Linked DNA regions of Homo sapiens. The protein of the gene in region 4 interacts with the protein of the main gene of each other region in a pairwise test. Each region holds a gene or a part of one and is shown on either strand. Other genes may lie near its edges. The genes, in order: RNF34, FAM131C, SMAD9 and DNAJA3.

Region 1 (7,421 bases), on a different chromosome or scaffold from region 4:
TGCAAGCCATGATCTGGGCTTTCATGACCTACTTGGGGACCTTAGTTGGCAGCAAAACTCCATGGGTTATACCACATGCATCCAAGTGGTATGTAAGAAGTATAACCCTTTTTCTAACAGTTTAGAAAGAACAATAATCTGGGGGGAGGGGGAAGGAGGGAGGAAAGGAACAAGGGGTGAAAAACTAACTGTTGGGTACTGTGTTCACTACCTGCTGGCGGGACCAACTGTACCCCAAACTTTAGCGTCACTCAATATACCCATGTAACAAGTCTGTACGTGTACCCCCAAATCTAAAAGTTGAAATTATATTTTTAAAAAAGAACGATAATCGTGAAGATAGCTAAATTTCCTCTCTTGACCATGAATGTAGTTTAAAACAACATAGAGAATAAGAGAATGAGGCAACTGTCTGCCTATGCCTAGCACAAAACTCCAAGCTCAGAGAATTCACCTGTGTTTGGAGTTTATTTTCTAGTCATCAGTGATTACTAAAAATAAATGACTTGTTCTTGATAGTCTAATCCCTTTCCTACCCACTCTCTTAAGCCAAAGCTGCTCTCAGTAGAGCCACCATAGGACCATGGTCTGCCTGGCTTATATCAGTTAAAAACCAGGTATCGTATTTAAAAACTTAACACCAGCCCGGCGCGGTGGCTCACGCCTGTAATCCTAGCACTTTGGGAGGCTGAAGTGGGCGGATTGCTTGAGCTCAGGAGTTCGAGACCAGCGTGGGCAACGTGGTGAAACGCCATCTCTACTGAAATACAAAAAATTAGTCAGGCGTGGTGGCAAGTGCCTGTAGTCCCAGCCACTGGGGAGGTTGAGGCACAAGAATCACTTGAAATGGGAGGCGGAGGCTGCAGTGAGCTGAGATCACGCCACTGCACTCCAGCCTGGGCGACACAGCAAGAGTCTGTCTCAAACAACAACAACAACAACAACTTACACATTCCATAATAAGAAATCAAATTCTAAAACCTGCCTGGACTGCCTCAGACACCTAGATATCCTCATGTCATTCTGGTATCCAATGCCAGTTCTCCTCTTTTCTTCAAAGACAGTGCACCAAGATTTTAGGGAGCCAGTAACAGTACCTTTTTTCCACATCCAATTTGGAGCTAATTAAGAAATAAGACAGGCCGGGCACGGTGGCTCATGTAATCCCAGCACTTTGGGAGGCCGAGGCAGGCAGATCACAAGGTCAGGAGATCGAGACCATCCTGGCTAACATGGTGAAACCCCGTCTCTACTAAAAATACAAAAAATTAGCTGGACGTGGTAGCAGGCACTTGTAGTCCCAGCTACTCAGGAGGCTGAGGCAGGAGAATGGCGTGAACCTGGGAGGCAGAGCTTGCAGTGAGCCGAGATTGCACCACTGCACTCCAGCCTGGGCAACAGAGCAAGACTCCGTCTCAAGAAAAAAAAAAAAGAAATAAGACAGAGGCCGGACACGGTGGCTCACGCCTGTGATCCCAGCACTTTGGGAGGCCGAGGCAGGAGGATCATCTGAGGTCAGGAGTTCCAGACCAGCCTGGTCAACATGGTGAAACCCCGTCTCTACTAAAAATACAAAAATTAGCCAGGTATGGTGGTGGATGCCTGTAATCCTAGCTACTCAGAAGGGTGAGGCAGGAGAACTGCTTGAACCTGGGAGACGGAGGTTGCGGTAAGCAGAGATTGCACCACTGCACTCCAGCCTAGGTGACAGAGCAAGACCCTGTCTCAAAAAGAAAAAAAAAGCAAGAAGACAAATGGAAATTAAAATGTTTGTTTTTACTGATAGCATCAACTGGAGAACAGAACCTTAGCTCTGTAGCCAAGTCTGGATAATATACAGCTGACCAAGAGCAGCTTACCAGCTAGTTGAGTGGAGACCAGAACTCCATCTTCACTACAGGAAGACAAATGTGAGAAGGTCCCAGAAAGTACTGAGCCAAGCATGTCAGTTCCTTCACTGAAACTCCTCAATATTCAAGTCCCTCTTTTTCCTCCCATAGCAGAGACTGACAGTGTTTCTCCCATACTGTTCCCTCCCCAAAAATGAATTAGAAGCCCCCTCCCCTCTGTAGGAGCAAAGGAGAGGAAGCAAATGGGAGGGGAAAGAATACAAACCTAAATAATCTGCGTAAGAGTAGGAATGACAGTTTCCAGCCAATAAGGTTATAAGGACTCTCTCAGGTTCCTCAGTCAGAGTCAAACAATATAAGCCCATGAAACATCATTACAGTCAACAAAAGCAAGAGGAAAGGTGTTCTGTTTCTTTGCAAGAGCAGCAGCCCAGCTCTCTTTCTGGCACAGTGCCAGGATTTTCAAATGGCCTCAAGGTTCAGCTGTCTTTGCTTCTGTGTGTGTATAATCTAATATGTTTTCAGAATCCCTGTGGGGAGAAAATACTTCAAAATGCTCAATTTAAAGAATTCACAAATTTACCACAAATTTTCAACCCTAAACTTTTAATGATTCCATTAAATATATTATCAACCAGCCAGACTAGAACGAAGAATCAGAAAAGCTATGGTAGTTTCCATGAAGATTAAATGACAGGCTGGGCGCAGTAGCTCACACCTCTAATCCCAGCACTTTAGGAGGCCAGAATCACTTGAGGTCAGGAGTTCAAGACCAGCCTAGCCAAGATGGTGAAACCCGGTCTCTACTAAAAATACCAAAAAAAATTAGCTGGGTGTGGTGGTGCACAACTGTAGTCCCAGCTACACAGGAGGCTGAGGCAGGAGAATCACTTGAGGCGGAGACTGCAGTAAGCTGAGATGGTGCCACCGCACTCCAGCCTGGGCAACAAAGAGAGACTCCATCTCAAAAAAAAAAAAAAAAAAAAAAAAAGATTAAATGACAGCCAGACACAAGAGAAGTATAGGGGGAGAGTGGGAAAAGAAAGTTTATGAGTATGAAAACAGACAACTAGGCCAGGTGCCATGGCTCAAGCCTGTAATCCTAGCAGTTTGGGAGGCCAAGGCAAGTGGACTGCCTGAGCTCAGGAGTTTGGGACCAGCCTGGGCAACATTGTGAAACTCCGTCTCTACTAAATACGAAGAAAAAAAAAAAAAATTAGCCGGGCATGGCAGCTACTTGGGAAGCTGAGGCAGGAGAACTGTTTGAACCCGAGAGGCAGAGGTTGCAGTGAGCTGAGATCGTGCCACTGCACTCCAGCCTGGCGACAGAGTGAGATTCCATCTCAAAAAAAAAAAAAAGAAACAGAAAACTAAATGATCTAAGTCATTCACTTTTTATTAAACTAGGTAAATAGCAAGGTAATAATAATGCCATAGACTCTTCTCGTAAGAGTCTATCTTGCTTGCCAAAACTCTAATATGTTACTACACAGTCATTCACTTTTTATTAAACTAGGTAAATAGCAATGTAATAATAAACCCATAGACTCTTCTCATAAGCGTCTACCTTGCTTGCCATAACTCTAAGTTAAATATATTATTTACACAGTTATTTTAAGGATGAACCTAGAAGTTTTAAATTCAAAAATAATTGTCTCAGATGCTACATGAATCTACAAGGACCAAGGAGCGATACTGTTCTTCCATCAATGAAAGCTTCCTCAGAGAACTCACCCACTATATGTCCAGGGTTTGTTTCAAACTCTGGACAACCTTCAGTTTGCTAAAACTCAATGTCCTGTGTTAAACGACAGGAAAAAGATGTATTAAATCTTAGCAACGGTGATATAAAATAATCGGTTTTACAGTTTAATCTTGGTTAGGTTAAACTTTCCTACATAACTAAAAGCAAAGCAGAAAAAACAGTTGATAAAAAAGCAAAATCTTTATCCTTTTTTTTTTTTGTTTTGGTTTTTTTTTTTGGAGACAGAGTCTTGCTCTGTTGCCCAGGCTGGAGTGCAGTGGCGCAATCTTGGCTCACTGCAAACTCTGCCTCCCGGGTTCACGCCATTCTCCTGCCTCAGCCTCCAGAGTAGCTGGGACTACAGGCGCCCGCCACCACATCCAGCTAATTTTTTGTATTTTTAGTAGAGACAGGGTTTCACTGTGTTAGCCAGGATGGTCTCAACCTCCTGACCTTGTGATCTGCCTGCCTCGGCCTCCCAAAGTGCTGGGACTACAGGCGTGAGCCACCGCGCCCGGCCTCTTTATCCTATTTAGAGCCATTTGAGAAACATATGCTCCTTAGAATGTGAAAGGATTTCTTATCAAAACTGCTGCTTCAACTGAAATACAATATGCAGGGACCTAACTCTTTCTTAGTGACCAAATATCCGACCATATACCACAAAGGAAGGAATTCTACATCCTAAATTATTTCTCTCATACCATTTGGACATTAAGCAGGTTGCAAAAACAGATGATGAACTCTAAAATGTAATACTTTTAGACAAGACATTGGCCAAACTGATCGATTATTACAATAACATGTGCTATAGATACAAATGTTACCTTCCTCATGCTTGGGTTTTTGTTTTCTTTTAACAGTATACTTGATCCTTAGTACCACTCCCCCACCTTTCAGAGAAAAAAAAAGGAAAAGGAATTACATTCAGTAGATTACTTTCTCCTTGATATCTCATTTTGAGCTTGGAAGAACCCAGATTAGCACAATTAATGGTGAGATCAATATAAATAAGGAAAAATGGGAAAGAGGATTAAATCAAATTAACACAGGGCACCAATTTGGATTTTTTTTTTTAATCCCTTATAGGAAGTTGATTGGATGTTACTGCAAGGTTAAAAAGTTACTTGAGTCTGAGAGGTAAGACCTATTTCAAAACATCAGTTTCTAAACCAAACCAAACCAAACCAAACCAAAACGCCAAAGGGAGAAAGTAAATACCCATTCCGTACATATACTAAAACCAGCTGCTCCAGGTTTGAGTGAACATGTACTTATCCATATAATTGCTTAGCTTTTCTTGTTTATTTTTAACTGCTTAACTTTTTTTTTCCTTTTTTTCTTTTTAAAATAATTTTTAATCGAGACAGGGTTTTGCTATGTTGGCCAAGCTGTTCTCGAACTCCTGACCTCAAGTGATCCATCTGCCTTGGCCTCCCAAAGTGCTGGGATTATAGGCGTGAGCTATTGCACCCGGCCAGGTATACTTGCTTAGCTTTTAATGTAATTTTAATTCCACAGAAAGAAGTATTTCCTTACATGAACATTCACATGTTAGCATTCCATGACATCAGGAATCAGTCTCTGCCCAGAAATCTACAGATGAGCATACCCACAATTAAACAATTTCAATATAAATCAACATTAAGTTAAATAATAAACATTTAACAGCCCAAATCCTCAATGGTGTAAATCCAGTTTCACAAAAACAAAAGCATCATTTATAACTGTCATCTGGCACAGGCTGATGTCTATTCAGGTCCATATTTTGCTTCTGAAAATACGTATCTTTTCTATAATTTCAATTGCCACCAAACTTTGTTTCTAAAATTTCATCTTAGAAAGTAGTACCTTCCACTTCAATTCAAAACACACGTCTGTTTTCAAAGAACTTGTTTAAAAATTTCAACACTGGACCTGTCTCTAATTCTTTCCTTCGATAGCTAGTTCCTTAATGGGCCACAAATTTAATATTAATAAAGATACTGATTCTTCGAGGCATTATATATAAAGATCCCTGCTTTGTTTTTGGATCTTAACACAGCAGAGGGTGGTTTTCAGGAAATAAAGCTACTTCTAGATACTTTAATAGATATTTCAAGCTGTAATAATATTTTATAACTAAACTGGAAAGTTAAAAATAAGCTTTTACAATATCCTCATACTTCAAGGCACAGTTCCAAAGTTACCTATTCCAAAAATATTCCTTGCTTTCTGTAGCCAGAAGTATCCTTTCTGGCTCCTGTGTTTTGTCCCTGCCTTTTTTTTTTTTTTTTTTTTGATACCTATAGCCTTCTGCCTTGTAATATGGTTACTTACAAATAACTCTTCTTTTGAATGGTAAACTGCCTTCCTAAGGGATGAGACTGTATTTTGAATTACTTCTCTTCACCATGTCTCCCTCTTGGCTAACGCACAGAAAACGTTCAACAAAACATGTGCTGAATTTCTGTGACCAGCTGACACTCTTTTTCAATCTTCTATAGTAAATCTTTGACGCTTTATGGAGACAGCGTTAATCTAGCAGCTCACCTGCTAGATTACCCACCCCCAGCACACCTCTGCACTGAGATTAACGAAACCATCTAGGTCTGAAAGTTATCATCACCTTATGACTCATCCCACTTGGTTTGAGTTCGGCAAATGAATCAATACCCTGAACTGACTGCTGTTCACAAAGCTCTTCAGAACTCTCAGTGATCGGGTTGAGAATCATCTCTCAGAAGTAGGCCGGAAACCCCGCTCCCCTTTCCCCTTTTCTTCAACTTCTCATCAGTAATGCTCCCACGCTCTCACTCCCACCTTGGAGAACTCAAGCTGCCAAATTCCTTGCTGCGTTTACCTAGTGGCGATGGAGGCACATCCAGCCTTCTCTAGTTCGCGGCCCCGACGTGCAGCCTACGAAGCACCCCTTCCGGGTGGCATCCCCACCCTGAGAGTTCTTTAACCCGTTAGCCTGGCCCTAGCCTCACCACCCCCTGCACCCCTCCTGTTCTCCTCGGTCCCACGATGTCCCCAACACTTGGGTTAGTTCAAGGACTCGGGGCGGGAAAGGGCACGCCGCGCGCCAAGGGACCGAGGCTCAGGCGAGCCCTGGCGGCTCTGCCTCAGGCCCCCGAGGAGGCGCACAGGGCCCGGCGCAGAGAGGGGCCCACCCGGCGCGAACGCTAGGGACGCCCGGCTTCTCCCCACCGCTCGGGTCGCTGACGGGGGTGGCACTGGAGGAGCTCGAGAGGGTCCGGCAGCCTGCCCTGGCTCGGTTGGGGCACCTGAAGCCGGGCAAGCGACCCCCCTCAGCGCAGCTCTCCGAGATGACGACTAGGTAACCGCTAAGGCGGAAAGAAAGGAGGCGCTTCAGGTGCCCTGGCAGGATAGGATTGGCGAGGAGGGTCTGTCCGGCTCCACCGGCCCCTCACCTTCATGGCCGCGACCGCCTCAGCTCGGCCGGCTCTACCAGGAAACTCAGCACCATAGCAGCTCCTCACACTGCCGACCTCCTTCCCTCTGGGCGGTGATTACCGCGCCCCGGGAGGCGACCGAGCGTCCGGACGTAAGGGGCGTGGTCACGCTCGCCGCGTGCCCCGGTAAAAGCGCAGAGCGGCGGCCACGACGACCAATAGGAAGCCGACTTTCGGGAGGCCGGTCACCAGAGCCAATGAAGCGACAGGGATTGGGCGGGGCCTCTGGCGTTCCTCCTGGCTGGGAGTGCGCGGGGAGGATTCTTTTCCGCCCCGAGCGAAGACCTGCGGACCTGGGCGTGGCGGAAGGCGCGCTGCGGCGCTGCTTTCTCGGTTGGGTGTTTGAAATGGGAGATAGCGTCCCTGAGG
Region 2 (7,421 bases), on a different chromosome or scaffold from region 4:
TCTGTCCCCTTTACCACTGGGTGGGGCCGTCAGCATCCTGGCAACCCAAGCATCTCCTGTCTTCTCAGAAGCTTGTGACCACTGTTTCCTTCCAGCGACTTGGCCGTTCCTCTGCTCCCTTCTCGCTGGACGTGCAGAGAGCTGTGTCCCACATCTACTTCCTCGTCCTCCACTTCTCCTCCACCCATTCCAAGCAGGCTTTCATGAGGCAGCCCTTGCCAAGCTGCCAGGAAAATCCGTGGGGCCAACTCCAATGGGGGCTGCTCCAGCCTCTTCTTGGAGCTGGAGCTGTGCAGCCTTCCTGCCCTCTTGAGCCTCGCTCTTATCCTGGCCTCTGGCCTCTCTGGCTGCTGTCCTGGGTCCCCTCTTTGGCTCCTCCCTGGCTCACCCCTGCCCGTTGGCTGGCACACTTCTGTCCTGGCCCTTCTCCACCCTCTCTCCCCAGGAGGTCTCACCTTCCTGTTTCCGCTGCCCGCTGCCCATGTGCACACCTCCAGCCCTGACTCCTCACTTGAGCTCCCAACTGAGTTTCCAGCTCTCCACATGGATGCCCAAGGGGCACCCCAAGCACACCTGGGCAAAAGAGGATTCCCAATTCCAGGTCCACCTTCCCCCCATCCCCCACTGCACCAACTACAACCCTGGGAGTTTCTCAGGGTCCTGCCTTCCCCCACTCTCCCCGGGGCCACGCAGTCAACCGGCAAATCCTGTTAGCCCTCTCTTAGGTCTATTCCAGGTCTCCCGGCTCCCTTCTCCCAGGGCTCCCCTGCTGCAGGCATCCTCCCTCCCTGGAAGACAATGGTCCCTGCGCTCACTCTCTGCCCGCCAGCGGAGGGACTTAATGCTCTAGGCCAGATTGTGTCACTGGGGTTAGGGGACCATGTGGGTGCTGCCCCCAATTCCCCTGGATTCCTTTCTCCTGTTTTTGCCCTGGCGCCCTGCATGGCTTCTAAGAGGCACCACCTGTGGCTCTTTCTACAGGGGCTGCCCTAGGTAAATTTCTGTTGGCCCCACCCAGAGTGGCCCCAAGCCAATGACTACCAGGTGCAGAACCCCAGCTCTTTTGTCTGGGATCCGAAAATTCCCCTTCACTTACCCTCCGGAGTACCCTGCAGGACCAGGCTGAGGCCAGGCCTGAGACCACCCCACTGCCTGGCTGGCCTCCTCCATCCTCCTCTCGCTCCATTCCCTACTGGCTTCCTCTGGAAGGTTCACCTCATATCAGTTGTACCCAAATCCTCATTTCAGGGGCAGCTGGCAGGGGGAAGGTAAGCATTCAGTTGGAGGTGAGATTAAGGTTTTCTTTTCTTTTTTTTTTGGAGACAGAATCTCGCTCTGTCACCCAGGCTGGAGTACAGTGGCGTGATCTCGACTCACTCTAACCTCCGCCTCCCAGATTCAAGCGATTCTCCTGCCTCAGCCTCCTGAGTAGCTGGGATTATGGGCACCTGCTCATTTTTATATTTCCAGTAGAGACAGGGTTTCACCATGTTGGCCAGGCTGGTCTCAAACACCTGACCTCAGGCGATCCGCCTGCCTCGGCCTTCCAAAGTGCTGGGATTACAGGCATGAGCCACCACGCCCAGCCTGAGATTCAAGTTTTCATCCCAACTGGATTAGACTTAGTTTGCAGAAGAGACCGTAGGTTTCTGGGATCCACCCAAAGGTAAGCAGGTGGGCTAGTCAAGGAGGCTGGAGGCAGAGACTGGAGCCAAGGAAAGATCTTATTGACCACCCCACCCATGACCCAGGCAGGCCTAAGGAGGTGAGAGCACCTGGGGCAGCACGGGATCCTGTGGACTGAGCCGTGCGCCTGCACACCATAGCACTCAGCTCATCTTGTTCTTTTTCCTGAGTCCCTGCTGTGTGACCCTGAGCTAGTCCTGCCCCTCTCTGGGCTCCAAGGCCTCCATTTCCACAAAGGCCATGTTGTCCAGGCCCTTCAAAGGCAATGTTCAAACTGGGGGTGCATATTTCAGTGGGTCATGCAGCCGTTTATTAATTAGGTCTTATTTTAATGAAATAGAATGGAATAGAATGGAAAATATCAGAGCCCACTGCAAGTCAGGTTAAGTATTACTTTATGAAGCTTCTGTTTATGCAAACACAAGTCTGTGCAGATGTGTGTGCACAACACACACAGAGTAAAAATTTTCTCTGTGTGTATTCTGGGTCATGATGCAAAATATATTATTCCTATGGGTCCAGTCAAAAAAGTTTGCAAGTTGCCAATCCTGAGGTTCTGGAAATTCTGCATGTCCTGTACAAGCCAGGGCCCGCCAAGGTGCAGACAGGTGGCTCTGGCCATAGGCTGACCCTAGGAACTTGAGAGGTGTTAGGGTATTTCTAGGACCCCTGGCCATCCCCTGAAGCTTTTTTACAACTCTCCAGCCACAGACCAGGGAGCGAGGTTGATGGGGAGGGGAGCCGGGCACAGAGGAGGCTGGTGGTGATGCCAAAGCCTGGCAGAGGCATGACTTGAACAAGGTCATTTGTTGAGACGGTGGTGGGCTTGGAGGACTCCTGGCTCCCACCCCCTCCCCAGCCCGCCTGGCTCCCCACCTCAGTTGGGGTTCAGGTGCCTCCACCAAAGCTGCCTGCTCCCCCTGAGGACTTTGGCCCCATGATGTCACAGGCTGGTTGCCATGGGGACGTCAGGTAATGAACCAGCCCAGGGTGAAATCACAGGCTGTTCTTCGCCCAGCTGGGACTGGTGGTCACGTCACCACTGGCAACTGGAAAAACACAGAGTGTCATGTGGGGTGGGGGCTGGGAGGCAGCCCGAAGGGACCGCTAGCACCTGCTCCTGTGGCTCCCTCTCCCAGAAGGACACCCCCTTTCTTTCAGTCCACACCCTAGTCTCCTGACCTCAAGGTCAGAATTCCCTTCTCAGACCTGCTCCCTCCCCCACCTCCTCTGTCCACAAGAGTGACAGGCTTCTGGCTGCCATGGCAACCTGGAGAGGGCCATCTTGATTCTTCAAGGAGAGGGTGTCAACCAGATGTCTCCTCCATCCCTCTGTCTTCAACCAGAGCTTCTCCTCTGCATCTTGAGGGTGCTTCCTGCCTTCCTATGCCAGCTCCTCTTCAATCTGCTTTAGAGTCTAACCTCCCAGACAGTTCCTCCTGATGTCTAGCCTAAACCCCTCTTGTTGCAGTTCCCATACTGGTTGGTCTTCTCTACTTGATCCTTGGGTGAGTCTGCAGCACAACCCCTCAGGCTCCTCTCGTCTGCTTCAGGGCCTTCCAACTCCTTTAAGCTGTTCTCTGGGGCTCCGTGTCCCAACCCATTAGTCACCATGGTTGCCATCTACCCCAAGAGTGCCTCCCAGGGCTCTGCACCCCAGAGGGCAGAGAGGGACCGTGTTTGACTCTGCAGCAGCCCAGGGAGGGTAAATATCCTCTCAAAACCACACAGAAACTGAGCAGCAGCCTGGGGTCAAAGCGTCCCCTCATGCTCCTCCCCGGCCAGCCTCGGGCTTCTCTGCTCAGCTTCTCAGGGCACCTGCAGCCGATGCGGCCCCTCTAGCCAACCATTGCCCGGGTGTGTACTGCCCAGCTGTGATGTGCCGGGCTCTGCCCTTGGCTCTGAAGAGAACGTAAGCGGCCAAGGCATTCCTCTTACGGTCCCTGAGCTGGGTTTAAGTCCCCGCTTCTCACTTTCCGCTGCAGGGGGTGGGCATGGGACTTAGCCCCTGTGAGCCTTGGATTCTCATCTGTGAAATAATACCAGCCCAGAAAGGGCTGCAGCAAGGAGGAAGCACCTGCCACAGCAAGCAGTCCGTAAGCAGCAGCCGCTCCACCCCTCTCCCCTCAGTGTCTCTCTCTGGACAATGGGACACATCTTGGTCAGCCACTCCTCTGGTCCTGTCCCCAGGGCTGGAGCTGGCTCTGGAGGCTCCGCAGAGGGAAGCCCTTGAGGGTGAGTCCTTGGCCGCTCTGCCTGTTGAGTCACTGCCAGGGGAGCAGGCCACAGAGCTTGGCAGAGGCCAGGCCTCGAGTGGACTGAGTGTCCCCTCCTCCCCAGGACATTTGTTTACAGGTCACCTGAGCCGTGACAATAGCTCATCTGTGGGTTGGCTCAGCTCAGAGCTATCCAAGGGGGTCCCTTTCTCTCCCCGTGCAAGGATGGAGAGAGAAAATGGGCTCCTCCCCAGGACTTCCACACACCCCAGCTCCTCCCCACTTCCTTCCCCAGGCTCCCTCCCATCCTGTGACCTGGCCTCTGGGAACATCTTGCTCCAGCCTCACCTCCCACAAGCAACCTGCCCAGATTGGCCTCTGCTGGATTAGGTACCTCACCTGTGGTCCTAATGGCCAAAGTCTGGCCTGCAGTGATTTGCCGCCACTGTTTACTGAGCAGGTGTGACAGTACTGTGTCAGGTACTGTCTGTCCTAGGCCTGTTCACCCATGATCTCTCATTTAACCCACACAACAATCCTGCAAAGTACATGTTATGCCCATTTTACAGATAGGGAAACGGAGGCTCAGAGAGGATAAATCACTTATGCAAGGTCACCTGCTAATAAGCAGCAGAGATGAGGGTCACACTTCGGCCCTTGTGAAACTCCAAAGCTTGTGCCCCAACCACTAAACAGTGCTGATCTCCAGACAGGGTCCTCGGGGCATCCTTCCAAGGGTTCATGCATACTGCCTCCCCCATTAGGCTACTCCACGGGCAAAGCTGTACCTCTCTCATCAGACTGTGAGCTCCCGAAGGGCAAGGTCCCACCTACCCTTTCCTCAGTGCCTGGTGTAGGACTGCTCAGGACTTGGAAACTATGGGTGGCTCTGGTCGGCCCCCTTAGAGCTTGTGCCTTCACCCAGACATGATCAGATGTCTGAGTTTCCAGAAGAAAATTCTCGGTCTCTAATTTCTACTCTCACCCCCGACCCCACCGGCCCCCAGTGCATTGGATACCCCCAAGGTGGGGCCAGGAGGCTGATCAGTTGGCCTGGAGGAGAGGGCTGGGGCATGAGTGAGGAGGCAGAGTGGTTATGGCACCAAGGGCATGGAGCGGGTACTGAGCCCCTGGAACTGGAGAGAAGGGGGGCAAATATTCCTCTCTGTTCCATACAGACTGCCATTGGTTGCAGAGCCCCCAACAAATAGGGACCATTCAAGTGTTCCAAGAGGTTGTTTTTCTAAGCACTGGCCATATACTTAGCACCTCTTTTTGTTTTTGAGACAGGGTCTTTGTTGCCCAGGCTAGAGTGCGGTGGAGTAATCACAGCTCACTGCAGCTTCGACCTCCTGGGTTCAAGCCATCCTCCTGCCTCAGCCTCCCAAATAGCTGGGACTACCAGCACACACCACCACAGCTAGGTAATTTTTAAAAAGTTTTTTGTAGAGATGGGGTCTCACTATGTTGCACAGGCTGGTCTTGAACTCGTGGGCTCAAGCGATCCTCCCGCCTCAGCCTCCCAGTATTTAGATTATAAGCGTGAGCCATAGCACCTCTCTCTCTATAGGGACGTAAGAAAGCAAAGGACGGGGTTTCCACACTCAGGCTCTGGGGTCACATTGACCTGGATTCAAGTCCTGCCTCTCCATGCCCTGGCCATGTGACCTGAGGGAAGACCCTCCCGTTCTCTGAGCCCCACATCCCTTGTCACAGGGTTGAATGAGAACTAACTAGGTCAGGAGAGCAAAGGCTCAGCCTAGCTCAGGATAAGCGCTCAACAAACGGTAGCTTAAAAATAGATAATGAATGCAAAATAGCTCCTGGAAACAGCATTTGTTGCCTTAATCTGGTCCCAATCACTTTCTCAATGTCCTCAGCACCTCGAGTGCCTGCCACCCGCTGCCTTTCCCATGAGGCAGGATGTGGCTTAAAACCTCTGTAGGTTTCCCCTTCCAGCCATGAAGGCCCACATTAGCTGTCTGCACAGACAGGTAATAAAAATTAAAGGCCGGGTGCAGTGGCTCACACCTGTAATCCCAGCACTTTGGGAGGCCGAGGTGGGAGGGTGGCTTGAGGCCAGGAGTTCGAGATAAGCCTGGGCAACATAGTGAGAGCCTGTCTCTATTATAATATATACAATATTAAAATTAAAAGTAAAAATGAGAGCAATAGCTAATATGTACGAGTGCTTACTATGTGTTGGGTACTGGTCTGAATGCCTTACATGAATTAAGCCATTTAGTCCGCCCAGCAACCCTATGACATCAATACTATTATAATTCCCATTTTAGAGATGGGAACACTGAGATACACACACAAGGTCAAGTCACTTGCTGAGGTCACAGAGCTAGTAAATGGTGGAGCCCTGCTTCGTATTCTGCACTCCTAGCCTCTCTACCAACTAGGCAGACGCTAACTGCTGCCGATGCTGGGATGGGGTGATTTTCCCAGGTGTGGCCTGACCTAGGTTTTGGGGTTTGGCTGGGTGGCCCCAGCTGGGTGCAAGCTCTGGGCTCAGTATGGGCATCAGCCTGAGGCCTGCAATCCTTGGCCTTGGCCAAGGGTGGACGCACTCCCTCCACCCTTCCTTCTGTAGCAGTGCCTACCTGGCCTAGGAGGCACTGAGCGCTCAGAGGCTATGATTAGCAATCGATTGCTGGTGCAGGGGCCAGGTGGGGGGCTCAGGAGCCCACAGCAGCCTGCAGCTCCAGGAGAGTAGACAGGTGCAGGCACCAGGGCCGAGGGCTGGCTGTGAGTGCAGAGACTGAGGCCCTAGGCTGTGGAGTCAGCATGCCATGGTTTAAATCTTGGCTTATACTATCCTAGCTGTGTGGCCCTGGACAAGTCACTCCACTGCCCTCTGCCTCAGTTTTCCCACTTGTAAGATAGGGACTGTGTTCATATATAACCCAAACTAGCTTTATCTGCCTAAAACTTTCAGACTAGTATGCACTCGGAGAGCATCAGTGATAAGGAGAGGGCAGGGTGGGTCAGTGATGCAGCCACCCAGAGTCTCTGGGACCCTGGCTGTCCCCTGCCCACATGGCTCCCCATATTCCTTTCACCTCAACCCAACTTTCCTGGATGCATGTTGAGACTGCCAGGGGCCCCGTCCTCTCAGGAGGGGGACAAGGCTGGACTATACAATTAGATCTGGGGGGCGCTGAGGAAGCCCAGGCTGCAGAAGGAAGGGTGGAGAGAGCGTATCTTGGCTGCTGTGGCCCCAAAGAGCCCTGGCAGAGGGGGCGGTGGAGGGAGCCCCAGGTGTGGGGTCAGAGGACCTGGGCCCCAGCCTCTCAGGGTGACCTTAGCAGGCGTCTCTTCCTCCCCGGCCTCTGTCCCATGCTCAGTGGGTTCTCAGCTCAAAGGCCAGTCCTTCTGGGCTGGGACCCCAAGGTGCCTGATATGGGGTGGCCAAGTGAAGGGGAAGGGACACTGAGGAAACACTCAGATCCCCTCCACCTGGAGCTGGCCCCAGCCAGAGACTGCCTAGAACCTTTGGGGTTTCTGGAGCCT
Region 3 (7,421 bases), on a different chromosome or scaffold from region 4:
TAACGGCTGGATTTTTTATATTCACACTGAATTTCACATGAAACTGAAGGCCATGACTACAAGGGATATATGTGGCCCAAATGAAGACTCTTGGTTTACCAGGCAGCCTTGTGCTCATGGCAATGAAGTACTATGGTAAGCAGATGTCACTGGAATTTATACTTAATAAGCCACTTGGGAAGCCTTGGTCTACATTTACTTACATCCCTAAAATACAGTTCTCTTGGCCACTCGTACAGTTTTTTTGGCTAGAATGTTACTATTGATTGGATATCATTTTTAAAGTTTCAACGGAGATTTTGAATTATTTTTTAAATTAAAGAAACTAGATACAGTTTTTATTGTTGCTCATTATCACTTCTTTGGAAGACAGAACCACTATTCCATTGCCTGTTTGCTATGTAGTGAAAGGGAAGTAGAATGGGCATTAAAGCAGCAAAGACAGGAGTCTAAAGGTCATGCCCAATAGTTTGGGTCACTTAAGGTAGGTTTAGAATGTTCTATATTTTTCCATGTAATAGTCTGAATATTAAGATCATATTTAAACATTTCAGTGATAAGCCAACATAACAGTGATACAAGAGAAGGCCAGCACTACCTTGTAGAGATCATGGTGTAAGTTTCTAGTATTGCAACCTACATTCTTTACACATACGTAATAAACTGTATATAATTTACACACACATATAGTCAGCATATTCTTGGAAACACTGTATGCCACCCCACAAATGTGTTATTTTATTATTTAAGTTTGGAAGGGCCCACAATTTAATGCTTCCAGAAGCAAGAGGCAACATGATATAATGAATAAAACACAAGAATGGAGGAAGAAGACTCCAGTCTGAGTGCTAGTACCATCACTGTCATCTTCAAGTAATTAGTCACTTCCATATTGTTTCCTCCTCTGTAAAATGGAAACAATAGTCACTACCTTTTGTGCAGAAGTACTGAGGGGATGTGAGAGAAAGCAGTTTGAAAACTGTAAACTAAGATAATATTGTATATTACCAACATGGAGGTATACTTCTGTTTATTCCTCCTGTAGGCTTCACTGTGGGAGTTAAGAGGTGCCCCAAAAATTAAAAACAACCGGCTGGGCGCAGTGGCTCACGCCTGTAATCCCAGCATTTTGGGAGGCCGAGGCGGGTGGATCACGAGGTCAGGAGATCGAGACCATCCTGGCTAACACGGTGAAACCCCATCTCTACTAAAAATACAAAAAATTATCCGGGCGTGGTGGCGGGCGCCTGTAGTCCCAGCTACTCAGGAGGCTGAGGCAGGAGAATGGCATGAACCGGGGAGGCAGAGCTTGCAGTGAGCCGAGATCGCGCCACTGTACTCCGGCGTGGGGGACACAGCGAGACTCCGTCTCAAAAAAAAAAAAAAATTAAAAACAAGCTCTTTAAACTAAAATTTAACCACCATTGACTCCAGGATCCTCAAATACACTATGTTCAAATGTAGAGATGGAACCATAGTGAATATGAGAAGAGGGAGGGATGAAAACACAGACCACAGAGAATTTGCAGGGCAATGAGACGACTCTGCCTGATACTACCATGGTGGATACACGTCATGATACACTTGTCCAAACCCACAGAATGTACACCACCAAGAGTGAATCTCCCAAATTTCTACTCTGAGTCTGTATCCATACATTTTACACTTAAAAGCCCACTAAATATCATGAGGTGGGGGTTGTGAGTTGACGCCTGTAACATCAATTTCAAATAAGGCTGTTCGCAATCTGGCCTCCCCAGACTACATTCCCAGCCTCATCTCTTTTCACTCCCTTTGCCCATCACTCCTTCCCTCCCTGCCCAGAAGGCCCCTGTGCAGCTCTATCTTTCCTGCTCCTTCTTCAAAACAGAGCTGGAAGCCAACTTCCTGGAAACCTTCCCTGGAGGCCCCCAGGCAACAGCACTGATCAGCTCTCTGCTGCTCCTCTGGGCTTCCACAGCACCTAACATGTGCTAGTCACTCACAACAGCACTTACCACACTTGAATCCCCAGATTTGGTAAGTGTTTTCTCCAGAGATGCCTAGCCTTCTATCAGGCCACAAGCCAAGCCACATTGTGGTCTGTACTACCTACCTAGCATGCAGGAGGCCATCAATAAATGTTGAATGAATGAAAGTAAAATCCAGTTTTATCAATACCATTAACTATTGTATTATTAATATTATTATTACTATTTTGAAAAAGGGTCTTGCTCTGTCACCCAGGATGGAGTGCAGTGGCGTGATCATGGCTCACCGCAGCCTCAACCTGCCAGGCTCAATAGATCCTCCCCCTGCAGCCTCCTGAGTATCTGGGGCTACAGGCACGCCCCACCAAGACCAGCTAAATTTTTAAAATATTTTTCTCATAGAAGGGTTTTCACCATGTTGTCCAGGCTGGTCTCAAACTCCTGGGCTCAAGCAATCTGCCCCCCTTGGTCTCCCAAAGTGCTGGGATTACAGGCATGAACCATTGCACCTGGCCAACTATTGTATCATTAAGCCCCATGTAATTAATTGAAGTTCTAACCTAAAGCCCATTGCTTTACTAACGCAATACAATAAATTTCTTTGAAAGACAGAATTATATAATGCATTCCCTACTTCCTATGCATAGTCTATCTACTTAAGGTAATATTATATAGAGCATAATCTGTCTGAATACTTGTAAAGTATTAAATGACTATAAATCATCTGTTTAATATATATATTTTTAATGATGTGTGGGCAATTTTTAAAATTTTATAGATGTGTGTCTCGAGGAAGGCTGTTTCCCGGCCAAAGGCTGCCTGGGGGGGGGGGGGGCGGGTGGAGTTCATAAACTGATAAAGAATCACAAATAAGCCGTGTTATGAACTGCTGTTCGGGGAAGCTCAATTTATTTTTTATTTTTTATTTTTTGAGACAGAGTTTTGCTCTTGTTTCCCAGGACGGAGTACAATGGCACAATCTCAGCTCACTGCAACCTCTGCCTCCTGGGTTCAAGCGATTCTCCTGCCTCAGCCTCCCCAGTAGCTGGGATTACAGGCATGTGCCACCACACCCAGCTAATTTTGTATTTTTAGTAGAGATGGGGTTTCTCCATGTTGGTCAGGCTGGTCTTGAACTCCCAACCTCAGGTTATCCGCCCACCTCAGCCTCCCGAAGTGCTGGGATTGCAGGTGTGAGCCACCGCACCCAGTCGGGGAAGCTCAGATTTTTATTTGCTAAAGAGAAGCATGAAGCAGTGGAGATGGTGTGTCAACTGCTTAGCTAGGAGTTGTGGCCATTTAAAAGCATGCAAACCACTTGAATTTGTCTTCACTCTTCCAAATACCCCTTTGATTATGTGATTCTTCTGTTCAAACCATTTAATAGTTATCATGACTACGGGTTAAAATTGAATAGTTCTCCTTTGCCTACAGATTAAATCCAAATTCCTTGCCCTTCCTTCCACCTTACCCTACAAAAACCAACCTATTTAGGGAAGAGAAAGGTGGGATCGTTGAAAACCCAACATATTTAGGGAAGTGAAAGGTGGAGTGGTTCAAGTATCAACAATGAAGTGGACACTACCCTAGCAGCTGAATATTTCAAGATAAGACATGGTCCCTTTCCTCTATACTACTATTGAGACAGCAATCTAAACATATTATTATCAGGCAAGTAATAGGTGCACTATTACAACAGTTACTAGAAGAGTGTATTCAAAGTGGTCTGGAGGCCCCTGGCTGGCTAAAAGGGTTGGGTGGGGTTTCCTATAGGACCAGCCATGCAAACTCACTCACCCTTGAACCAGTAAAGGGTAGCAGGGAAAAACAGGAGGAAACTGTACAAAGGCTGGATCCTCCTCCTGACAGACTCAGGAAGTAGTGAAATTCCATGGCCTAGGGATGTTCTCAGCATCTCTAAGTTCTCATAAGGACTTACTGAAAGAATCTCTTCCTGTTTATGTCTTCTATTTTACCTCTACCTTCTAGTTTACCTCCCAAATCCCAAATGAGATCATTCTCATTATCCTTGACAAGACTAACTAAAAATTCACACACAGAAAATACGGAAGTCTAATCAGGAAAAATACAGTCATCCCCAGGTATCTATGGGGGATTCAGTCCAGAATCCCCACAGACACCAAAATCCAAGGATGCTCAAGTCCCTCGTATAAAATGGTATATTTGCATATAACCTACCACATCCTCCCTTATACTTTAAATCATCTTAGCTTACTTATAATACCTACTATACTGTAAATGCTATGTAAATGGTTTTTATATCTTATTTTTTATTTGTGTTATTTTTAATTTTTTCTCCAATATTTTTCATTTGTGGTTGGTTGAATCTGTTGATGCAGAAACTGCTGACTCACAGGGCCAGCTGAATAGAGAAATAAACCCAAATAGATTACAGTTTGGGGAAGTAAGACATCTTACTATTGGAGAAATATTTTAATATTTGCTTTCTTGATCTCTTTCACGCTAACTACACTATGAAATCCTGGAGACTAGGATTTTATTTTTGTCACTTCATTTCGTTGTGTAGTCCCCAGGGCCTGTTCTGGGGCCTCATAGGCAGGGTAGACACAATAGACACAGAGTAAATAATGGTTGAATGAATATCCTATACAAGCCCCATAAATTTACAAGTTCCACCTTCTAAAGTGATTGCTACACCCACAAAATTGCAACACTTTAAAACCCCAAGATATAATCAATACAACTTTAAAAAAATAAAGTGTATTTAGAATATCTTGTAATAAAATTAGATGCAATGACAACAGAAAGCAAGTAAAACTGCCACTCCTTTGAAATAATACCAACTTGTCATTATTTGCAAACACAGCCAACACCTAATGACTGCTTTGTGTAAACATATAGTCAATAAGCTGAAAGGGAAGCATTCATGTCCATAAATGTTTGTCTTTGACAAATATTTTATTCAACTCCTATTCCTAAAAATAAAATTCTACTTCCACTAGAAAACAAAGAATGACTAAATGCATAAACAAGACAAAGAAAACCACATGAGACCTAAAATCTTTTTAGCTTAACACATTTTTCATCTTCCACATTCATTACCACCATTCTTGGCTTCTAATAATCACTTATGTCATTAATAATAATCACCCATATCATCAATCACTGGTGGTCTTGCTTTATGAACAAATGGTGTTCAATCCTGCATAGTTATTTGGAAACTGGAATTCACCTTCCCCTAGAACAATGTCATGAGTGCTAATGTACTTCCCTGGCCAGCTCACTAGGATCCTCTCAACTCACAACGCAGGTGCCTTTCATACTACTAACACTAATTCAAATATGTGATGTCTACCTTTGGCATCTGCCAATCTGCTTTCTGTAACACCCTCTTTCCACACTTAGGTGCCTCAAACTTCTCAACAGTGCTACTGCCCAAGCCTTAAAATGACTTACTCTCGGGCCAGGCGCGGTGGATCACGCCTGTAAACCCAGCACTTTGGGAGGCCGAGGCCGGCGGATCATGAGGTCAGGAGATCGAGACCATCCTGGCTAACATGGTGAAACCCTGTCTCTACTAAAAATACAAAAAATTAGCCGGGCGTGGTGGCAGGTGCCTGTAGTCCCAGCTACTTGGGAGGCTGAAGCGGGAGAATGGCATGAACCCGGGAGGTGGAGCTTGCAGTGAGCCGAGATGGTGCCACTGCACTCCAGCCTGGGCGACAGAGAGAGACTCCATCTCAAAAAACAAAAACAAAACAAAAAAAAACTTACTCTTCCTTCTTCCTTCCTCACTCCTCCTCTCAGCCAAACTCCAATTCTCTCACTGTGATTCTCAGCAAAGAAAGGAGCAAGATGAATTCATGAACTTATGATGAAGTGTACTGATAAGAGATGTCAAATATTCTGCCACAAAGTGGGAAACTGATGGAATCTGTGAATCCCTTTCTGCGTTACCATTAACTCCTGAAATGTGGTACTACCAAGTCAGTTAAATTTAGATACAAGAATTCAGAAAGCAACTCCTGGCACTTCAGTTGAACGCTACCATCCATCAAATGCTTCTTAAAAAAGACCTGCAAATCTGCTGTAAGCTTTCCATAGCCCACAAGTACGTAGGACAAAATCCTTTAGAATGACATTAACCATTGCACAATTATTGCGTTTTGTGAAAACAAATCAAAATACACAGTAACCAAAGTAAATCTGTATTTGATAGGCTTCTAAGCACTTTAACAGATGAAAAGTAAAAAACAGGCTGTATGGAAGAAGATATTCCATAGATTAAAGCAGTCATTTAAGGCAAATGGCCCAGTGTATCTAGGGATGTGCTCCTGGGGTCAGTGAGTTCAGGATGTGGCTACCTCACAGTGTTCACACTTCTACTACTTGCAAACTCTAAGTCGTCAGAATCCTCAACTCAGAATCCCCAATGTCACCAACACGTTTGAATGGCCGCAAGACCACATGTATGCTATCCAGATTCCTTTGTTCAGTGATAGAAAACTGGCAACTGGAGTCCTAGAATGAATGGGCATCCCTGGCACTCCTAGTGCTTGTAAACTGAAGATTGCTTTTCGCAACTGCAGCACCAAACTCTCCTCGGGACTGAGGAGTACATGTTTTCTATTTATAGTCCCTCAGAATTAAATATGAAAAAGAAAAGGAAGTGATCAGATATTAAGTATTAAATTTCCCCAAGGGGAAATTCACATAAAAATAATCCCCACCAGTGAATCAGCTAATCAGAGTACCAAAGAATGAGACAAAGAGAGAGAGAGAGAGAGAAGATTTTGATATTTAATATCTAAAAAAGAGGAATTGGAAATTGTCATTATAGGAAAAAATCAGAACTACATAGGTCTCCTTTACAATTATTCTTTGGGTTAAACTTTTTTCTTTGAATTAAATGTGGGCTGGGAATGAGGGGGAAGAACCATAATCTCTTCAGTGCTTATGACTTCTAAAGTGTTACAACCGTGTGCACACACATATACAATCCACCTTAATATTTATGCCTTTTATTTTAAATTCTGAATTTAAATTTTATATTGGGAGTCGTTTTGATTCTTGAAAAATGCGTTTTGAGCTGATTAGAGCTTCCCAATTAAAACGGTACAACTGAATATATTATATGGGCATGACATTTATAAGCAAATTCTATTTTTTCACATCATATTAACTTTAATACTGGATTGTTACACAGAACATGATATATTTTAAAATGAGAGTTAGTATTGTTCGATAATAGAATGACCAAGGCACAGAAGGCAGATTCTGCCTGACGAGGCTGATAACAAGACCCTTTACACATCCAACGTGAACAAAGCAGCAGCTCATCTCAGTAGCAGTCTGCTTTTCTTTTGTGAGCATAGTTTGAAACACATACATTAAAAACAGTATCAATTTTTATGCGGCTATGGTGGGGGGAGGAATCAGCATATCGTGTTAGCAATTTTCTGTGGAATC
Region 4 (7,421 bases):
GATTAAAAAGGGATTCAGCTCCCCCCTCTTATGCCACATGAGCACTTACCATTTGCTAGGTATTTTCATATTTTCATATTTTTCTGTCACATTTAATGCTTAACAACTCCCCACATTCTTTTCCCTCTATCTTGCAGCCTTGGGTATCTACTTAAGGAGCAGTTCTCAAGACTGCGCTCCCTGGACCAACAGCATCATTAGACTGATGAAAACACAGATGTTCAAGCCCTACTCCAGACATTCACCAGAAACTCAGGAGGTCTCCACCCACTAGATGCCAGTAGAGAACTCCCCGTCTCCAGGCATTGCCAAATGTCCCCTGGGAAGTAAAAGTGTCCCCTGCTGAGAACCAATGACAAATCAATCTAAGAAGGTCGGGGAAGAACTTCTAGGCATCAGCTGTTAAGCTGCAGAAACTGGCTAAGCTGCCCAGGAAAGCATTTGCCACTTTCAGTGGAAAACAAATGGCGGTTACTAACTAGGATGACTTTGTACTTTGGATCTGGATTCACAGCACCTTTTTTAATAGCAAGACACCAACTGCTTAAGAAACAAGGATGTTTTAGTTCATCCACTTAACAGATAGGAAGAGCAGGTTTTTTGTTTTTTGAGATGGAGTCTCGCTCTGTCGCCCAGGCTGGAGTGCAGTGGCGCCATCCTGGCTCACTGCAAGCTCCACTTCCCGGGTTCACGCCATTCTCCTGCCTCAGCCTCCCAAGTAGCTGGGACTACGGGCGCCTGCCACCACACTCGGCTAATTTTTTCATATTTTTAGTAGAGACGGGGTTTCGCCGTGTTAGCCAGGATGGTCTCGATCTCCTGACCTCATGATCCGCCTGCCTCGACCTCCCAAAGTGCTGGGATTACCGGCGTGAGCCACCGTGCCCGGCAGGCTTTTTGTTTCTTTGTTTTTTGAGACGGAGTTTCGCTCTTCTTGCCCAGACTGGCGTGCAGTGGTGCGATTTTGGCTCACTGCAACCTCCGCCTGCTGGGTTCAAGCGACTCTCCTGCCTCAGCCTCCCAAGTAACTGGGACTACAGGCGTGTGCCACCACGCCCAGACTGGAGGTGTTTTAATAGATGAAATCTGTTTAAAAAGTGAATAAGCCGGGCCGGGTATGGTGGCTCCTGCCTGTAATCCCAGCACTTTGGGAGGCCAAGGCGGGCGGATCACCTGAGGTCAGGAGTTAGAGACCAGCCTGACCAACATGGAGAAACCCCATCTCTACTAAAAATACAAAATTAGCCGGATGTGGTGGTACATGCCTGTAATCCCAGCTAGTAAGGAGGCTGAAGCAAGAGAATCGCTTGAACCTGGGGGGCAGAGGTTGCAGTGAGCCAAGATCGCGCCATTGCACTCCAGCCTGGGCAACAGGAGTGAAACTCCATCACAGAAAAAAAAAAGAAAAAAAAAAAGAAAGAAAAATAAGCCTGGGCACAGTGGCTCTCGCCTGTAATCCCAGCACTTTGGGAACCTGAGGCGTGAGGATCGCTTGAGCCCAGGAGTTCGAAACCAGCCTGGGCAACACAGAGACCCTGTCTCTATTAAAAATAAATAAATAAATGGATCAAAGACTTGAACTTATATGACATACTAGATGTTTGTAAATAAACTTATGACATGGAAAAAAAAGAGAGAGAGACAGAAATAGGCTAAAGAGGACTTTGAATCCATACAGATTTATACCTATAACTAAACTAGATGGCAGTGGTGGTAGTGGTGGTTAGAGATGATAACGATTAATGGGGCCTAGGAATAGGAAGGGCCTTAGAGCTATGCTAAGGAGTCTGGATTTTATCCTAAGAGCAATAGGGAGCCACTGCAAATGTTAAACAAAGAACCCATTAGGTTTGCATGAGAAACAACTCTAGGCCAGGCAAGGTGGCTCACGCCTATTGTAATCCCAGCACTTTGGGAGGCCGAGGCGGGTGGATCACTTGAGGTCAGGAGTTCGAGACCAAGCTGGCCAACATGGTGAAATCTTGTCTCTACTAAAAATACAAAAATTAGCCGGTCATGGTGGTGCACGCCTGTAATCCCAGCTACTTGGGAGGCTGAGGCATGAGAATTGTTTGAACCTGGGAGGCTGAGGTTGCAGTGAGCCAAGATCGCGCCATTGCACTCCAGCCTGGGCGACAGAGCAAGACTCCACCTGAAAAAAAAAAAAGAGAAACAACTCTAGGAAGCCTGGGAGACTACTCGAAGTTAATCAGCACAAAACACAACCAGAGGTTGGTTGAGCACATCCAAGTAGGAGGCCAGGTAAAGGATGATCAGACAGGAGAATGGATAGGAATGGTCAGGATACTTAAAATTAGAAATAGGAAATAAATCCGTGTGTTTGGCACACCCAATATCCTCGGGATACAAAAAGCACACTGGAAGTAGTAGGGGTCAGGAGACCACTTTGTGTTTCTTCAGTCAGACTTGAGAAAACACTAGACCTGACTTATTATTGAACTTGTACTCAACCCTCTTTTTATTTCGGAGTAAGGGGTTGCCCGGCCCAGTCCAGCCTCTCTCTCACCACTCATTCCAATGCCACAAGGCGGAGGCTGGTAGTGACCTGTGGCAGCTGTGGCTTCAACATTACGGGCAGAGAACACGGACAGGAGTTAGTACAGAGATAGTAACGCACAAAACTGCATGTGGATAAAGACAAATCACGTTTAATTACAAGACTGATGGCTTTGTTTTTTCTTTTTTTGAGACAGAGTCTCACTCTGTCACCCAGGCTGGAGTGCAGTGGTGTGATCTCGGTTCACTGCAACCTCCATCTCCCAGGTTCGAGCGATTCTTCTGCTTTAGCCTCTCAAGTAGCCAGGACTATAGGCGCACACCACCACACCTGGCTAATTTTTGTATTTTTAGTAGGTAAGAAGTTTCACCATGTTGGCCAGGCTGGTCTCGAACTCCTGACCTCAAGTGATCCGCCGGCCTCATCCTACCAAAGTGCTGGGGTTACAGGCATGAGCCACCATCCCCAGTCTGATGACTTTTGACATTATCCATAGGGCATCAATGATTAACAATAATTAGATTTCATTTAATAGACTATTTATTTTATCACATATGACCAGTAAATGTCCTGTCCTTTTTAGAACAACCCAGAATAAAATAAGCCTCCAAGTCGTTCTAAGAATGGCCAACCCACTGTCCAACAACTGCTTTCTTTTTTTTTTTTTTTGACAGGGAGTTTGGCTCTTGTTGCCCAGGCTGGAGGGCAGTGGCGCGATCTCGGCTCACTGCAACCTCTGCCTCCTGGGTTCAAGCGATTCTCCTGTCTCAGCCTCCCGAGTAGCTGGGATTACAGGAACCCGCCACCACGCCTGACCAACTTTTTCTATTTTTAGTAGAGACAAGCTTTGGCCATCTTGGCCAGGCTGGTCTCAAACTCCTGACCTCAGGCGATCAACCCACCTCCCAAAGTAATGGGATTGCAGGCATGAGCCACCATACCTGGCCACCAACAACTGCTTTCTTTCTGCTTGGAAGAAAAGTCACATCTAAAATGTTGTTATGTCATCTTACTACTAGATTTGAGACAAGATCACAGACTAGTGTTTGGACGCTGAGTTAATGACCTTTTCAAAATTTTTTTTTTTAAGAGACAGGGGTCTCATTATGTTGCCTAGGCCAAATTCAAATTCCTGGACTCCAGCAATCCTCCCACCTCAACCTCCTGAGTAGCTAGGACTATAGAGGCTCGCCACCACATGGCTTCTCAGTTGATGACTTTATTAATTTTTTGGTAGAGAAAGAGTCATACTCTGTTGCCCAGGCTGGAGTGCAGTGGCATCATCATGGCTCACTGCAGCCTCAACCTTCTGGGCTCAAGTGAAACTCCCACCTCAGCCTCCCAAGCAGCTGGGAGTACAGGCAGTTGCCACCATAGTTGGCTAATTTTTTTTTTTTTGAGACACAGTTTCGCTCTTGTTGATCAGGCTGGAGTGCAATGGCGCTAACTCGGCTCACGGCAACCTCCGACTTTCACGTTCAAGCAATTCTCCTGCCCCAGCCTCCCGAGTACCCGGGTTTACAGGCATGCGCCACCAGGCCTGGCTAATTTTGTATTTTTTGTAGAGACGGGGTTTCTCCATGTTGATCAGGCTGGTCTCAAACTCCTGACTTCAGGTGATCCGCCCGCATAGGCCTCCCAAAGTGCTGGGATTACAGGCGTGAGCCACCATGTCCGGCCACAGTCAGCTAATTTTTAAAAATCTTTTTGTAGGCCGGGCGCGGTGACTCACACCTGTAATCCCAGCACTTTAGGAGGCTGAGGTGGACAGATCATGGGTAAAGAGATCGAGACCATCCTGGCCAATATGGTGAAATCCAGTATCTGCTAAAAATACAAAAATTAACTGGGAGTGGTGGCACGTGCCTGTAGTCCCAGCTACTCAGGAGACTGAGGCAAGAGGATCACTTGAACCCAGGAAGCGGAGGATGCGGTGAGCCGAGATCACGGTGAGTCAAGATCATGGTGAGCCGAGATCGCACCACTGCACTCCAGCCTGGCTACAGAGCAAGACTCCGTCTCAAACAAACAAACAAAAAAAATCTTGGCCGGGCGCGGTGGCTCACACCTGTAATCCCAGCACTTTGGGAGGCGGAGGCGGGTGGATCACGAGGTCAGGAGATCGAGACGTCCTGGCTAACACAGTGAAACTCCATCTCTACTAAAAATACAAAAAATTAGCTGGGCGCGGTTGCAGGTGCCTGTAGTCCCAGCTACTCGGGAGGCTGAGGCAGGAGAATGGCCTGAACCCGGGAGGCGGAGTTTGCAGTGAGCCGAGATCGTGCCACTGCACTCCAGCCTGGGCGACAGAGTGAGACTCCGTCTCAAAAAAAAAAAAAAAAAAAAAAAATCTTTTTGTAGAGATGGGATCTGCCTATGTTGCCCAGGCTGGTCCCAAACTGCTAGGCTCATGTGATCCTCCTGCCTCAGCGCCAGCATAGCGCTGGAATTACAGTCGTGAGCCACCCCGCCCAACCAGTTGATGACTCTATCTGTGAAAACAGCACGTACCCTGAAGGATGCCACCTCTCACCTGTGTACACTACCTGATATAAAACTTGCCCATGGCAGGTTATGAGCTCACTTGGGGAACAAGACAGCTAACCGCAGTTCCTTAGTCACAGCTTCACACAAAGCTTAGTGTTTAGTGCCTGTTTCTCTCTTTCACATACACAATAATAACGAGTGCTCCCAAATTTGTACAGCTGGAACATGAACAAATTTGGCTTAATAAAACAAGTCACCTAAGGATTAATATTTGAATGAAAAGATGCAGCCAGATTCTATTTAAAACAACCTTGACATTAGAAAATGTTAGCAAGCTCTAAAAATGGCCACTTTTGCTCATGTTGAAAAATCTAGCCTGGCATGGTGGCACACACCTATAAGCCCAGCATCTTGGGAGGCTGAAGTGAGCCAGGATCACATCACTGCAATTTGGCCTGGGCAACAGAGCAAGAGTCCATCTCAAAATAAAAATAAGGCCGGTCGCGGTGGCTCAAGCCTGTAATTCCAGCACTTTGGGAGGCTGAGGCGGGTGGATCACAAGTTCAGGAGATCGAGACCATCTTGGCTAACACGGTGAAACCCTGTCTCTACTAAAAATACAAAAAATTAGCTGGGCGTGGTGGCGGGCGCCTGTAGTCCCAGCTACTCAGAAGGCTGAGGCAGGAGAATGGCGTGAACCCGGGAGGCGGAGCTTGCAGTGAGCTGAGATAGCGCCACTGCACTCCAGCCTGGGCAACACAGCGAGACTCCGTCTCAAAAAAAAAAAAAATTCATTCTGTTGGCCAGGTGCAGTGGCTGATGCCTGTAACCCCAGCACTTTGGGAAGCTGAAGCAAGGGAATCACTTTAGCCCAGCCTGGGTAACATGGTGAAACCCCATCTACAGAAAACTAGCTGGGTGTGGTGGTGCATGCCTGTAGTCCCAGCTACTCAGGAGGCTGAGGATGGAGGATCGATTGAACCTGGGAGGTCAAGGTTGCACTGAGTTGTAATTGTGCCTCTGCACCAGTCTGGGCAACAGGAGGCCCTGTCTTAAAAAATAATTAAATACATAAATAATCATTCTCTTAACCAAACACACATCCAATCTCTTTGTTCTCTGCCATCTCCTCAGTGCCCAGAACAGTGGCTGGCATACAATTGGCCTCAATTAACACCTGTGAATGAATGAATTTTCAGACAGGTGCTCGAAGGGGTTAAATAATACACCCCGCTCACAGACGCTGGGGAAGTTCACCCCTGAAGCCCAGGCTCTTTTCTTTACATTGCATGAAGTAACCACAATTACTGATACTTTAATGATTGTCTACTATGTAACTATTACAAACTGGATTGCAACAGGAAGTTAGTTGGTATAAATTATCTTGTCAGGGCCCTTTAATTAATCTTTATAAATTTATAGATAGCTTAAATACCATTTGCACAAATTCTAGAGGACACAAAACTAGCACAATTCAGGTACGTACAACACACAGCACAAAACACACGGCATAAGAAAAGAAGGCTAAGCAGGGCACGGTGGTTCACGCCTGTAATCCCAGCACTTTGGGAAGCCAAGGGGAGGCGGATCACCTGAGGTCTGGAGTTTGAGACCAGCCTGGCCAACATGGCGAAATCCCGTCTCTATTAAAGATACAAAAATTGGCCAGGCGTGGTGGCGCATGCCTCTAGTTCCAGCTACTGGGGAGGCTGAGGCAGGATAATCTCTTGAACCCAGGAGTCGGAGGTTGCAGTGAGTCGAGATTGAGCCACTGCACTCCGGCCTGGGCAACAGAGCAAGATTCAGTTTCAAAAAAAAAAAGAAAAGAAAAGAAAAGAAAACATGACTAAGCACTTCAAGGCTTAATGTATAATTCAGTGTCATCTCAGGCAATGATATCAAGCCTCCACCTCCTTGTGACATTTATAAGTGGTTTAACATCTAAGCCTCAGTATCTTTATAAAATGGAATAACAGTGCCTATCATGTGGAAATGTGATGTAAGGGGAAAACCATGCCTGGCCAACAGTAAGTGCTCAATAAATGTCTGACTGTGTTATTATTACAATCACCAACTAAAGACTTCTAAAAAGATTGTTAACTGTGCCCTTCAATTAGCACCACGTGGTAGAAAGAGCGTAAACTATGACATGACTGCTTTGGGTTTGAGACAACTCTTCTAGTCTAACTCCATGACCTTGGGCTGGTCGATTCCTCCGTTGAATCTCAGTTTCTCATTCTTTAAAATGGTGATGACGGCAGGCATCTTGCAGGGTTGTTGTAACAAAGTACCTAGGCCTCTCCGAATGGCAGTTAGCTCTTCCCTTCCGCTACGGGCTAGAAGGTGGAGAGATGGGAAAGGAAGAGGACGAGGGAGCAGCGGCCTCCAGAAATGTTGACAGAGAGGTGAAGGTTCA

The links.
Region 1: the proteins of DNAJA3 (region 4) and RNF34 interact in a two-hybrid assay, tested with the Homo sapiens proteins (one study listed by BioGRID).
Region 2: the proteins of DNAJA3 (region 4) and FAM131C interact in a two-hybrid assay, tested with the Homo sapiens proteins (one large-scale study listed by BioGRID and IntAct).
Region 3: the proteins of DNAJA3 (region 4) and SMAD9 interact in a two-hybrid assay, tested with the Homo sapiens proteins (one large-scale study listed by BioGRID and IntAct).

Annotation. Positions count from the first base shown.
Region 1 is NC_000012.12:121,399,808-121,407,228, reverse strand, and holds the start of RNF34 (E3 ubiquitin-protein ligase RNF34), read right to left. Parts: upstream 7,112-7,421; 5' UTR 7,017-7,111; coding exon 7,011-7,016; intron 5,191-7,010; exon of another isoform or gene 5,134-5,190; intron 4,488-5,133; exon of another isoform or gene 4,431-4,487; coding exon of another isoform or gene 4,422-4,430; intron 2,381-4,421; exon of another isoform or gene 2,116-2,380; intron 1-2,115. UniProt on the Homo sapiens protein: E3 ubiquitin-protein ligase that regulates several biological processes through the ubiquitin-mediated proteasomal degradation of various target proteins.
Region 2 is NC_000001.11:16,064,599-16,072,019, forward strand, and holds part of FAM131C (protein FAM131C), read right to left. Parts: intron 1-7,421.
Region 3 is NC_000013.11:36,908,825-36,916,245, forward strand, and holds part of SMAD9 (mothers against decapentaplegic homolog 9), read right to left. Parts: intron 1-7,421. UniProt on the Homo sapiens protein: Transcriptional modulator activated by BMP (bone morphogenetic proteins) type 1 receptor kinase. SMAD9 is a receptor-regulated SMAD (R-SMAD).
Region 4 is NC_000016.10:4,426,330-4,433,750, reverse strand, and holds part of DNAJA3 (dnaJ homolog subfamily A member 3, mitochondrial), read right to left. Parts: intron 1-7,421. UniProt on the Homo sapiens protein: Modulates apoptotic signal transduction or effector structures within the mitochondrial matrix. Affect cytochrome C release from the mitochondria and caspase 3 activation, but not caspase 8 activation.